2 separate regions of the Homo sapiens genome follow, and region 2 is linked to region 1. The links come from fine-mapping of genetic effects on gene expression. Tissue or cell type: whole blood. Region 1 holds a variant in brackets; the other region holds the start of a gene. All regions are shown on one strand. Distances are between the middles of the regions.

Region 1 (6,234 bases):
GGAGAGGACTCATGGGTGCCAGCAGCTGAGTGGGTGAGGGAACCCTTCTGAGACAGCTGACCCAGGCGGTGGGGCAGGAATGCGAGGGAAGATGACAGATTCGGCTGTGGGCCTGGTAAAGTGGAGGGCCCTAGGCATATGTGCTGGGAAGAGAGATCAAGGCTGAAGGTGATGATGGGGTTGTCAGGCTGCCCTGGTCCTTGGAACTATGGGAGTAGATGAAACCAGTCAGGGAGGAGCAAAGAGAGGAGAGGGACCCAGACAGAACCCTGAGAATCGCATATCGAGGGGACAGAAAATGGGGGGACAAGCAGGCAGACTCACTGGAGCCAAGGAACAGGGTTTCCTGGTAGAAGGAGGGGTCCCCGATGACAGGGCTGACAGCTGAAACATCCTCTGGGTTTAGGCAGGCAGATCAGCTGAGGTCAGGAGTTGGAGACCAGCCTGGCCAACATGGCGACACCCCATCTCTCCTAAAAAATATATACAAAAACTTGGTGGGCGCCTGTAATCCCAGCTACTTGGGAGACTGAGGCAGAAGAATTGCTTGAACTCGGGAGGTGGAGGTTGCAGTGAGCCAAGATCATGCCATTGCACTCCAGCCTGAATGACGAGCGAAACTCCATCTCAAAAAGAAGGAGCTATTATAGGCCAGGCATGGTGGCTCACCCCAGTAATCTCAACATTTTGGGAGGCTGAGGCCGGCAGATCACTTGAGGCCAGGAGTTCGAGACTGGTCTGACCAACATGGTGAAACCCTGTCTCTACTAAAAATACAAAAATTAGCCAGGCATGGTGGCCCGTGCCTGTAATCCCAGTTACTTGGGAGGCTGAGGCATGAGAATCGCTTGAACTCAGGAGGTGGAGGTTACAGTGAGCCAAGATGGCACCACTGCACTCCAGCCTGGGCAACAGAGCAAGACTCTGTCTCATAAATATGATAGAGAAAGAAAGGAAAGAAAAAGGGAGGAAGGAAGGAAGGGAAGGAAGGAACGAAGGAAGGAAAGGAAGGGAGGGAAGGGAGAGAAGGGAGGGAAGGAAGGAACGAAGGAAGGAAAGGAAGGGGGGGAAGGGAGAGAAGGGAGGGAAGGGAGGAAGGGAGGGGAAAGAAAGAAATGAAGGAAGTGAGGGAGGGAGGGAAGGAAGGGAGAGAAAGAAAAGAGAAAAGGAAGGGAGGGAGGGAAAGAAAAGCAAGCAAGCAAGCTATTCTGTGTTTGGTTAGGAAACCAACTCTGCAAAGCACTGGCAATTACAACTTGCATTTTGCTTCTGTCTGGGCATGCTGGATAAATATGCCTGTGGGGTGGCGGCATCAGTAACGGGCACAGGAAGCTTTCTCAAGGATGAGTGAAGTCGCTGCAAGAGTGAGAATTCAACAAGCAAAGGACTCCTTTGCTGAAAGCACATTCATCTATGATGCAAACTACTGCGTTTACAAAGTGTTTTCTTCCTGTTTTGTGTGTGTGTGTGTGTGTGTGTGTTTTGAGACAGAGTCTTGCTCTCTGGCCCAGGCTGGAGTGCAATGGTGTGATCTTGGCTCACTGCAACCTCCGCCTCCCAGGTTCAAGCGATTCTTCTGCCTCAGCCTCCCCAGTAGCTGGGACTACAGGCGTGCGCTACCATGCCTGGCTAATTTTTGTATTTTTAGTAGATATGGGGTTTTACCAGTTGACCTGGCTGGTCTTGAACTCCAGGCCTCAGGTGATCAGCCTCCCAAAGTGCTGGGATTACAGGCATGAGCCACCGAGATTCATTTTACCAAGAACTCCACGTTGGAAAGCCATAACATGATTGCTTTTTGAGGACTTTACCCCTGAAATTCAAATGTTCCCTCACCCATAGCCATTGATGGGGGTGGCAGGAGGAGGGCCAGTAAGGAACCCTGGGATTTGCTTATGTCCATGTTAGGGCCTAACTTGCCTTTTAGGTCAGTAACCCGGAGGGGGAAACCTGGTTTATTAGACTAAGTGTCCTCCTGGTTTCATTCTGGCTGTCAGCAGTAGCCTGTAAAAGACAACTCGAAGTGTAGATGGATTTAACCTGGCGTCCGTAACATCTACTCTTCCAATTGTCATAAAATGTGGGCTGGCTGACATGAGTGGAATTTTTCCTTCGTTTGGATAAATGTGTCACGGTCCAATGCTGTTGTGACAGATGGAAAAATCCTATGTAGGGCACGCAGCAGCCTACCCGGCATGGAGGAAGGACTCCAAGGGACCGTCTGGCACCGCCGGGCTGATAGGAACCCATCTTGTCTGTCTGTGAATTATTCATGTGCTGCACTTCCTGAAAAGAATGCTCCTGTTTGACTGCCTCGCTCGTAAAACCGCAGAGAATTCACCGTTAAAGGTGAGAGGCTCCCTGCAGTAGGGAGTGGAAGGGGCCAGGGCACAGCAGAAACTCTTTGCTGCTGTCTGCGAACAGCATGAGAAGGACAGCACGCTGCACTGAAGTTGGGACCCCAGGGGTCTCGCTGGGTCTGTGAGTGGCAGTGC[A/G]CTCTGGGTGGCAACCCCCAATTAGCTCAGTGCAAGCTCTTCATGGTGCCATCCAACACCCTGGGCAGGGGCCAAGCAAGGTGGCCCATGCCTCTATGCCCAGCACTTTGGGAGGCTGAGGTGGGAGGATCACTTGAGCCCAGGAGTTCGAGACCAGCAGAGGCAACATAGCAAGACCCATCTCAATTTTTTTAAAAAATTTAAAAATTAGCTGGACATTGTGGCACATGCCTGTAATCCCAGTGCTTTGAGAGGCTAAGAGAGGATTGCTTGAGGCCAGGAGTTTAAGACCAGTCTGGGCAATACAGGAAGACTCTATCTCTAAAAAAAGAATTTTTTTTTTTTTTTTTGGCTGGGCACAGTGGCTCACATGTATCATCCCAGCACTTTGGGAGGCCGAGGCAGGCAGGATCACCTGAGGTCAGGAGTTCAAGACCAGTCCGGCCAACATGGTGAAACCCCATCTCTACTAAACATACAAAAAAGTAGCCAGGCTAGTGGCGTGCACCTGTAGCTCGGAGGCTGAGACAGGAGAATCGTTTCAACCCCGGGGTCGGGGGTTGCAGTGAGCCAAGATGGCACCACTGCACTCCAGCCTGGGTGACAGGGCAAAACTCCCTCTCAAAAAACAAACAAAAACAAATTTTTTAAAAACTACCACGGTGTGGTGGCTCCTGCCTACATGTAGCCTCAGCACTTTGGGTGACTGAGGGCAGAGGATCACTCGAGCTCAGGAATTCGAGGCTGCATTGAACCGTGATCGCACCACTGCAGTCCAGCCTGGGCGACAGAGCCAGACCCTGTCTCAAAAAAATAAAAAAAAAAATCCTGTGAAAACTCGGGCGTGGCCAGACGGATTCTCCCCTCCCCACCTTCCTTTCCCCTCCACTGCCCACCTGCACCCGCCCGCCCTGTCCCCACTCCCCGCCCCTCTACGCAGCCAGCGTCCAATGCTGGGCACCCCCCGAGGCTCACCCTGCCAAGCCTGGGGCTCCCCTTTTGCGCCCGGACCCAGGGGCAGGGAAAGCCCAGCTCGTGGTCTGTGGGTAGCCGGACCCCCGATGGGGCGGTGGGGGGCCTCGCCTTGACTCCCAGAGCTGGGGCCGGGGACAGGAGCTGGGGCAGGAGGGATGCGCGCGGGTCGGGGTCTTCCCACCTCCCCTGCTCCTCTCCCTCGCGCGATCCCGGGGTGGTTCCAGGTGAGGCGGGGACCCCCACCCCCCCACTCTCCGAGGAGGCGCCGCCAGCCCCGCCCCTCCCGGCCCGGCGGGTGACGTGGCCGCGGCTCTCCCGCGGGTGGGTCACGTGTTGGCGGCGCCTGGTTGCCTTGGCAGCGGCTGCGGCGGCCGCGGGGGCGGGGTGGAGGCGGGGCCGGGGGACCCCGCGCGACCGGCGGAAGGAGGGAGGGGGCCGCGCTCGGCGCCCCGGCCGGGCCACTGGGCCACAGGCCACGCGGCCACGCAGTCCGAGCGGGAGCCGAGCCGGGCGGGGCGAGGGCAGCTCCGGTGAGTGTGGCGGCGCGGGGGCCTGGCGCGGGGAGCGGGGTCCCTGCGGCTGGGGGGGCCGGAATTGGACCGGGGACGCTCGGCGGGGAAGGGGACGACTGTAGGCTGCCCGGGCGCGGTCACTACCCATCCGGGGTTGGTGACCTCCACCCCGCGGGATCCCTGGCGGGGTGCGGCGCCCAGAGGATCAGGGTCGGCGGCGCAGCCGGTTCCGGACACCGGGGCGTCCCTGGGGGAGGGACAGGGATGCAGCCTAGCGCCCCTGGGAGGCCCCCTCCCAGTGCGCCTGCTGGAGAGAGACACTCGCCATTGCCGGTGCCCCAGATGCTTAGAGGAAGTCAAACTCCAAGACCGCCCTCTGGAAATGTGTCCAGTAGGCCAGCCAGGAAGAAAAGCTCATCTCTAGAGAGGGGATCGCGTTATTCTACAAGACCTGTTTTCTCGGACTGCTCATTAAAGCAAAAAAAAAAAAAAAAAAAAAAAAGCAACCCCACAAGGTTCAGTCCCGGAGCATCCTCTAGGGTCTGTGCCACCTGACAGAAGTACAGGGCTCCATCCTGCCCCACCCCACCCCCTGCCTGGGATCCAGTGTGAGGCCCAGACTCTGTCCCTCCCCCTGGGCCACCGGGCCTGGCACACACAGTTGGCATTGGGAACATAAAGGATGGATTTGAACCCCCTCCTGGGCTGCTCCTTCGAGACCTGGAGACCTGTCTCAAGACCCAGCTCCAGGCAGACAGACATCGTTTCCTCCACAATCCCACCCACTCTGGGGACATCTGCAGGGCCTCACCGATGGGGCATGGGAGGCCTGGCGGCTCCCAGGAAGCCACCCTCAGCCCTCACTGCCCTGAGCTCTTCACCTCCACTCTCAGACCTGAGCCCAGCCCACCCTTACTGATGGGGCATCCCTCTTGTTCACCCTTCCTTCCTTTGGAGGCCACCAGGCTCTCCCTTGCGTCCCACTCCTGCCAGTCGGCCAGCCATTTCCCTGGGTTGAACTGTGGTCCCAAACCAGAATGATCTAGCAGTGCCCAGACCGTTCCACTCACCAATTTCTTCCATTCTCCTGTGGCTGGACGCCCAGTCATGCTGCCCAGACCCTCTGGCTCATTCCACAGCCCCAGGCTCCAAGTGTCTTCCACCCACATCTCCCTGCCCCCTCCACCCCCCAGGTGGCAGCCAGTCTTCCCTCCATATCTCCTGGACAAGGAGAGCCACCCCACATGTACACCTGGAGTGGCCTTCCCGTCTCTCGGAATCCTTCCATGCAGGCAGCATCTTGTCTTTGAGGAAAGGTCCCTCTTTTTTAAAATTCTTTTTAGAGGCCAGGCGCAGTGGTTCATGCCTATAATCTCAGCACTTTGGGAGGCCAAGGTGGGCGGATCACTTGAGCTCAGGAGTTCTAGACCAGCCTGGCCAACATAGCAAAACCCTGTCTCTACCAAAAATACCAAAAATTAGCCAGGTATGGTGGCACACACATGTAGTCCCAGCTACTCGGGTGGTTGAGGCGGGAGGATCGCTTGAGCCTGGGAGGTAGAATTTGCAGGGAGCTGAGATTGTGCCACTGCACTCCAGCCTTGGTAACACAGCAGGACCCCATGTCAAAAAAAATTATTTTTAGAGACAGCGTCTTACTCTGTTGCCTAGGCTGGTCTCCAGCTCCTGGCCGCAGGTGATCCTCCCACCTTGGCCTCACAAAACACTGGGATTACAGGCATGAGGCACTTTGGCATGCAAAGGGCCGCTCTGTCCCCTCCCCGGTGTTACCTGCAAGCACCTTTTCCTGGCCTTGGTGTGAGGCAGCCAGTCCTCTGCTCCCTGCCCTCCATTGAAGCCTTTAGCTCAGTGGATGAGGATTGCCCCCCCCTCTTTTTTTTTTTTTTTTTTGAGATGGAGTCTCGCTCTGTTGCCCAGGCTGGAGTGCAGTGGTGTGCTCTTGGCTCACTGCAACCTCTGCCACCACACCCAGCTATTTTTTTTTTTTTAAGACAGAGTCTCACTGTGTCACCCAGGCTGGAGTGCCGCGGTAGGATCTCAGCTCACTGCAACCTCCGCCTCCTGGGATCAGGCAATTCTCCTGCCTCAGCCTCCTGAGTAGCTGGGATTACAGGCGCCCACCACCATGCCCAGTTACTTTTTGTATTTTTAGAAGAGACAGGTTTCCACCATGTTGTCCAGGCTAGTCTCGAACTCCTGACCTCTAGTGATCCGCCCACCTCAGCCTCCCA
Region 2 (5,616 bases), 32 kb after region 1:
GCCAATAGTAAATTTTTAAAAAAGAGTTTCGCCAATGAAATAGCCAGTATTTGCATCTGTGGCACTGAACATTTTACATGGATTATCTAGTTTCATCCCCAGGACAGCCCCAAGAGGAAGGTACCATAACTATCATGGGCAGGAGGTGTGGAGGTTCTGGCCGGAGTCACCCAGTGAGGACTTCGGAGGCCACCAGAACTCAGCCCTGGGCTCTGTGGCCTGTCTCCTCTTCCTCTTCCATCTCCAGGCTCCTCACACCCTGGGCTGCCACTCACTGTGGGCCGCTGTCTTTCTCTGTTCTTCCCTCCAGGGACCTCAGCCCCTTCCAATGCTTTACTTCCAGCCACCGACTCCAGCTCAGACCCCTCCTGAGATTGGCACTATCTCCTCCTGCTCCTGGGGCCCTCCCACGGGAAACATTAAAACTGGGAGTCCCCCGTGTGTCGGCTGAGCAGGCTGGACTTGTCCGAAAGGCCATGGAGCGCTCTTGAAGGGTTTTAAAGGAGTGACGAGGTCAAATGTGAATTTTAGAAAGATCTGGAGGGGGGAGGGGCAGATATGAAGGGTGGAGGCTGGAAAGCCAGTGAGGAACTGCCCCAGTGCCCTGAGATCCTGGATACCTCACTCTCCTTGTTCCATAGCCATCGGGTTGGGAAGATGTCACCTCCACATGGCCACTGGAACGGGTCAGACTTTCCGCAATTTTTTTCTTTTCTTTTTTTTTGTTTGAGGCAGGGTCTCGCTCTGTCACTCAGGCTGGAGTGTAGTGGCGCTCACAGCTCACTGCAGCCTTGACCTCCTGGGCTCAGGCAATCCTCCCACCTCAGCCTCCCAAGTAACTGGGACTACAAGCACACACCACCACACCTAGCTAATTTTTAAATTTTTTGTAGAGACAGGGTCTTGCTATGTTGTCCAAGCTGGTCTCAAACTCCTAGACTCAGGCGAGCCTCCTGCCTCAGCCTCCCAAAGGGCTGGGATTATAGGCATGAGCCACCGCACCTGGCCCCTTCCACAAATTAAAACTCTTAAGTTCATTCATATTGTTGTACAGCCGTCACCACCATTCAGAACTTTTTCATCTTGCAAAACTGAAACTCTTTCCCTATTAAACAACAGGTCCCCATCTCCCCTTCCTGAGCCCTTGGCAACAACCCTTCTACTTTCTGTCCCTGTGACTACCCTACGTAGCTCACACAACAGGAATCATGCAGTATTTGTCTTCTGTGACTGCTTCCTTAACTTAGCATCGTGTCCCCAAGGTTCGTCCATGCTGTAACATATGTCAAAATGTCCTTTTTTTTTTTTTTTTTTTTGAGACAGGGTCTCACTATGTTGCCCAAGCTGGAGTGCAGTGGCGTGATCACAGCTCACTGCAGCCTTGACCTCCCAGGCTCAAGCAACCCTCCCACCTCAGCCTCCTGGGTAGCTGGGACTACAGGTACGTGTCACCATGTATGGTTAATTTTTTTGTAGAGGTGGGATTTCACCATGTTGCCCATGCTGGTCTCAAACTCCTGGGCTCTGGCAATCTGCCTGCCTCGGTCTCCCAAAGTGCTGGAATTACAGGTGTGAGCCACTGTGCCCGGCCTGTCCTTCCTTTTTAAGGCTGAATAGTATTCTACTATGTGTATGCACCACATTTTGTGGATCAAGTCATCTCTTTTTTTTTTTTTTTTTTTTTTTTTGAGAAGGAGTCTTGCTCTGTCACCTGAGCTGGAGTGCAGTGGTGCGATCTTGGCTCACTGCAACCTCTGCCTCCTGGGTTCAAGCGATTCTCCTGCCTCAGCCTCCCGAGTAGCTGGGATTACAGATGTGCCTCACCAAGCCCGGCAAGTTTTTGTAATTTTAGTAGAGGCAGGGTTTCGCCATGTTAGCCAGGCAGGTCTCAAACTCCTGACCTCAGGTGATCTGCCCACCTCAGCCTCCCAAAGTGCTGGGATTACAGGCGTGAGCCACTGAACCCGGCCCAGGTATCTTGATAGATGCTTGGTTTGCTTCCATCTTTGGGCTGTCATGAATAATGTCGTGAATATGAACATGGGTGTGCAAATATCTCTTCCAGACCCTGCTTTTAGTTCCTTTGGATATATACCCAGAAGCAGGATTGCGGATCATGGGTAATTCTATGTTTAATTCATGAGGCATGCCATGCTGTTTCCATAGGACCTTGGGCACTTTTACCATGGACGTTGGGGCAGTCTTCACTGGCTTACCAGCCTCCACACCTTCATATCTGCCCGTTCCCTTCCCAGGATCTTTCTAAAATTCACATTTGACTTCATCACTCCTTTAAAACCCTTCAAGAGCTCTCCAGGGCCTTTGGGACAAGTCCAGCCTGCTCAGCTGATGCACCGGGGAGCATCTGTGATCAGACCTCCCCCCCCCCACAACCTCTCCAGCCTCATCTCTCTCACCTGAGGCATCACCAATCCACCTTCCTACCCCACGCAGTTTTCTGGGTTGGAATGCCCTTGCAACCAACCACAGTCCTTCCATGCCAGCCCAAAGGCGCTGAGTTCTTTTTCTTTTTTTATTTATTTTCTTTTTGTGAGACAGAGTCTCGCTCTGTCGCCCAGGCTGAAGTGAGGTGGCTCGATCATAGCTCACTGCAGCCTCCAGCTCCTGGGTTGCAGCGATCCTTGAGTTCCTTTTCGTTAGTTAACTGGAATTCACTGTCTCCTTGCCCATTGCAGTCCACGGCCTTCAGGCACCGTTGGACTGGTATTCAGCACCCTCGATCGACCCTTTCCGTGTCATCTCCCTGCAGGCCCGTGAAGCTCCCAGCGCCAGACCCGAGAGGCTACGTCGAGGTTTACAGGCAGATCCCCCCAGAGTCCCCGAGGTGACCTGTAATCGAACCCACCCACGTTCCAGCTCCTTCCCCACTCCCAAGCCCGCTCCTTAAAGCCCTCATCTCCTCACCCTGCATCACCCCTACCGTAAGGGTCCCTCACAGGCTTCGATCCCGGCCCCTATCATGGCCAAGCTGGACCTCAGTTTCCCCAGATGCAGAGCGACGTTTGTGGGCGCGGCCCCTCTCCCACCCCTTACCGCTGGGGGCAGCTCCCAGGGCGGGTCACTGCCGCGCTGCCGCTCGCAGATCAGACAGGTCCGGATGCCCTTGCAACCGCATTCCCGAAGGACTTCGGGGGTCTCGGCGGCAGCCGCCGCCATCGCGCCGTCCGCGTGGCCAGTGCGCAGGCGCGGCCGTGGGGGCCGCTGGGAGTTGTAGTCCGCGCCGGGCGGGGGCACGAGGCCTGGGTTCCGCTTCCTTCCGGTCGTTAACGCCCACGGGCTCGCGCGGCGCCGCCTCCTGGGCTCAGTTACCGCGGACGCCAGTGCCGGGCTCCAGGAGACGCAGGGCGACGCCACACGCCGGGGTGGCCGACTGGGTCAGCGCGGGCTGCGCCTCCTCGCCATGGGCCCCCTCTCGGCGCGGCTGCTAATGCAGCGCGGGCGCCCCAAGAGCGACCGGCTGGGGAAGATCCGGAGTCTGGAGTAAGAGCCGGGCAGCGGGTGAGGCTGTGTCCTCGGGGCCGGGCGGTCGGGGAGAAGAGCGGGGACCCTCCCCAACGGCCCGCTTGTCCCCGTTATCGCCCTCTGGGTTCGGCAGAGTGGTCCAAATGTCTTCTTGTTGGGAGATCGTGGCCCCACCCGCTCGCCGGGAGCCCCGAGGGGCCTCATCCCCTGAAGGGAGCCCGGACAGTTAGGGGCACAGCCTGCCGCTATCGTTAGAGGGCCTGGGAAGCACAGACGAGCCCCCGAAGGATCAGGAAGAGCATCCTAGAGGGGGCTAGGATGCCCCCGAGTCCTAAAGTAGTTGCAGCTTTTTTTTTTTTTTTTTTTTTTTTTTTTTTTTTTTTGTTAAGTGGTGTGGAGTCGGGAGTAGTGGCGCGCGCTTCTAGTCCCAGCTACTCGAGAGGCTGAGGCGGGAGGATCCCTCAGCCCAGGAGTTGGAGGCAGCTGTGAGCTATGATCGCGCCTAGGCGACTGAGTGACACCCCGTCTCTAAAAATAAAGTAACGGGGGGATGGGCGGGGCGGCTACACTTGTACGAGAAATGTCAGGTGAAAAAGCCTTCTGAGGTACCCGGGGCAGATTGGTGTAGGGTGCAAAGCCTGCCCGCCCCCTAAGCCTTCTGCCCCCAACTCCAGCCTGTCAGGATTGGAGCTGCTTTCCGAGCACCTGGACCCCAAACTCCTGTGCCGCCTGACGCAGCTGCAGGAGCTTGACCTGTCTAACAACCACCTGGAGACGCTGCCGGACAACCTGGGCCTGTCCCACCTGCGTGTCCTCCGCTGCGCCAACAACCAGCTGGGGGATGTTACTGCCTTGTGCCAGTTCCCCAAGCTCGAGGAACTCAGCCTGGAGGGCAACCCCTTCCTGACGGTAAGTGGGAGCCTCCCACCAGCTTCATACCTGGGGCCAGGACTCTGTTGGGCTCAGGCTCAGCATCTCCTGAGCCACTGCTCTTCACCCTCTCTTCCCCAGGTCAATGACAACCTGAAAGTCTCCTTTCTCCTGCCCACGCTCCGTAAGGTCAATGGCAAGGATGCGTCCTCAACTTACTCTCAGGTGGAGAACCTGAATCGGGAGCTGACCAGCAGGGTAAGGGGATGAGAGGATTATTGTGTGCTTAGGAGCTGTGGGGGCATTGGGAGAATGATAGAATTGGACATCAGGAGGATGTTGAGGAGGGTGACTGATAGAGGCTCTTTGCCCCAACAGCCCCTAGCCTGATGTGCTACTTTATTTATTTATTTATTTTTTGAGATGGAGTCTCACTCCGTCGCCCAGGCTGGAGTGCAGTGATGCGATCTTGGCTCATTGCAACCTCTGCCTCCCAGGTTCAAGTGATTTTCCTGCCTCAGCCTCCCGAGTAACTAGGATTACAAGCACCTGCCACCATGCCCAGCTAATTTTTTTTGTATTTTTAGTAGAGACAGGGTTTCACCATGTTGGCCAGGCTGGCCTCAAACTCCTGGCCTTAGGTGATCTGCCCGCCTTGGCCTCCCAAAGTGTCGGGATTACAGGTATGAGTCACCACACCCGGCCTGACTCTTCTAAGTAGCTTTTTCTGGGGTGTTTCTTTTTTACCTTTTTTTTTTTTTTTTTTTTTTTTTTTTTTTTTTTTTAGAGACAGGGTCTCGCTCTGCTGCCCATGTTGAAGTGCAGTGGTGTGATCGTATCTCACTGCAGCCTCCAACTCCTGGGCTCAAGCGATCTTCCCGCCTTAGCCTTCTGAATAGCTGGGGCTTTAGGCGCATGCCACCACGTCTGGATCATTTTAAAATTTTTTGTAGAGATGGGATCTTGCTCTGTTCCCCAGGCTCCAACTCCTGGCCTCAAGCGATGCTTCTTCCTCAGCCTCCCAGTGGCTGGGACTATAGGCACCTGGGTTGTTGCTGGTGTGTGTGTGTGTGTGTGTGTGTGTAGGCACCTGGGTTGTTGCTGGGGTGTGTGTGTGTGTGTGTGTAGGCACCTGGGTTGTTGCTGGGGTGTGTGTGGGGTGTGTGTGTGTGTGTGTGTGTGTGTGTGTGTGTGTGTGTGTGTTTTATGAGGCTGTGATTCCAGGAGGCTTCCAGCAGGTGGCGGGATTGAGATTCCCTGAGA

Evidence for each region. PIP is the estimated chance that this variant, and not a neighbour inherited with it, causes the effect.
Region 2: LRWD1 starts here. The variant in region 1 is fine-mapped to the expression of LRWD1 in whole blood (TOPMed, PIP 0.98).

Annotation. Positions count from the first base shown.
Region 1 is chr7:102,429,662-102,435,895 of GRCh38, forward strand. ORAI2 (ORAI calcium release-activated calcium modulator 2) reads left to right here and starts at 3,914. Exons shown (of 4, transcript NM_001126340.3): 1 at 3,914-4,000. RefSeq lists silencers at 1,681-1,975, 3,374-3,513, 3,544-4,323. The variant A/G (reference allele first, on the strand shown) is at 2,496.
Region 2 is chr7:102,461,660-102,467,275 of GRCh38, forward strand. It overlaps LRWD1 (leucine rich repeats and WD repeat domain containing 1), which reads left to right and starts at 3,325. Exons shown (of 15, transcript NM_152892.3): 1 at 3,325-3,501; 2 at 4,158-4,392; 3 at 4,495-4,611. The coding sequence starts at 3,422. It overlaps ALKBH4 (alkB homolog 4, lysine demethylase), which reads right to left and starts at 3,204. Exons shown (of 3, transcript NM_017621.4): 1 at 3,055-3,204. The coding sequence starts at 3,177. MIR5090 (microRNA 5090) reads left to right here and starts at 4,083; the gene lies at 4,083-4,167. RefSeq lists enhancers at 2,947-3,596, 3,726-4,252, 3,876-3,975, 4,253-4,778, 5,142-5,201 and a silencer at 3,106-3,535.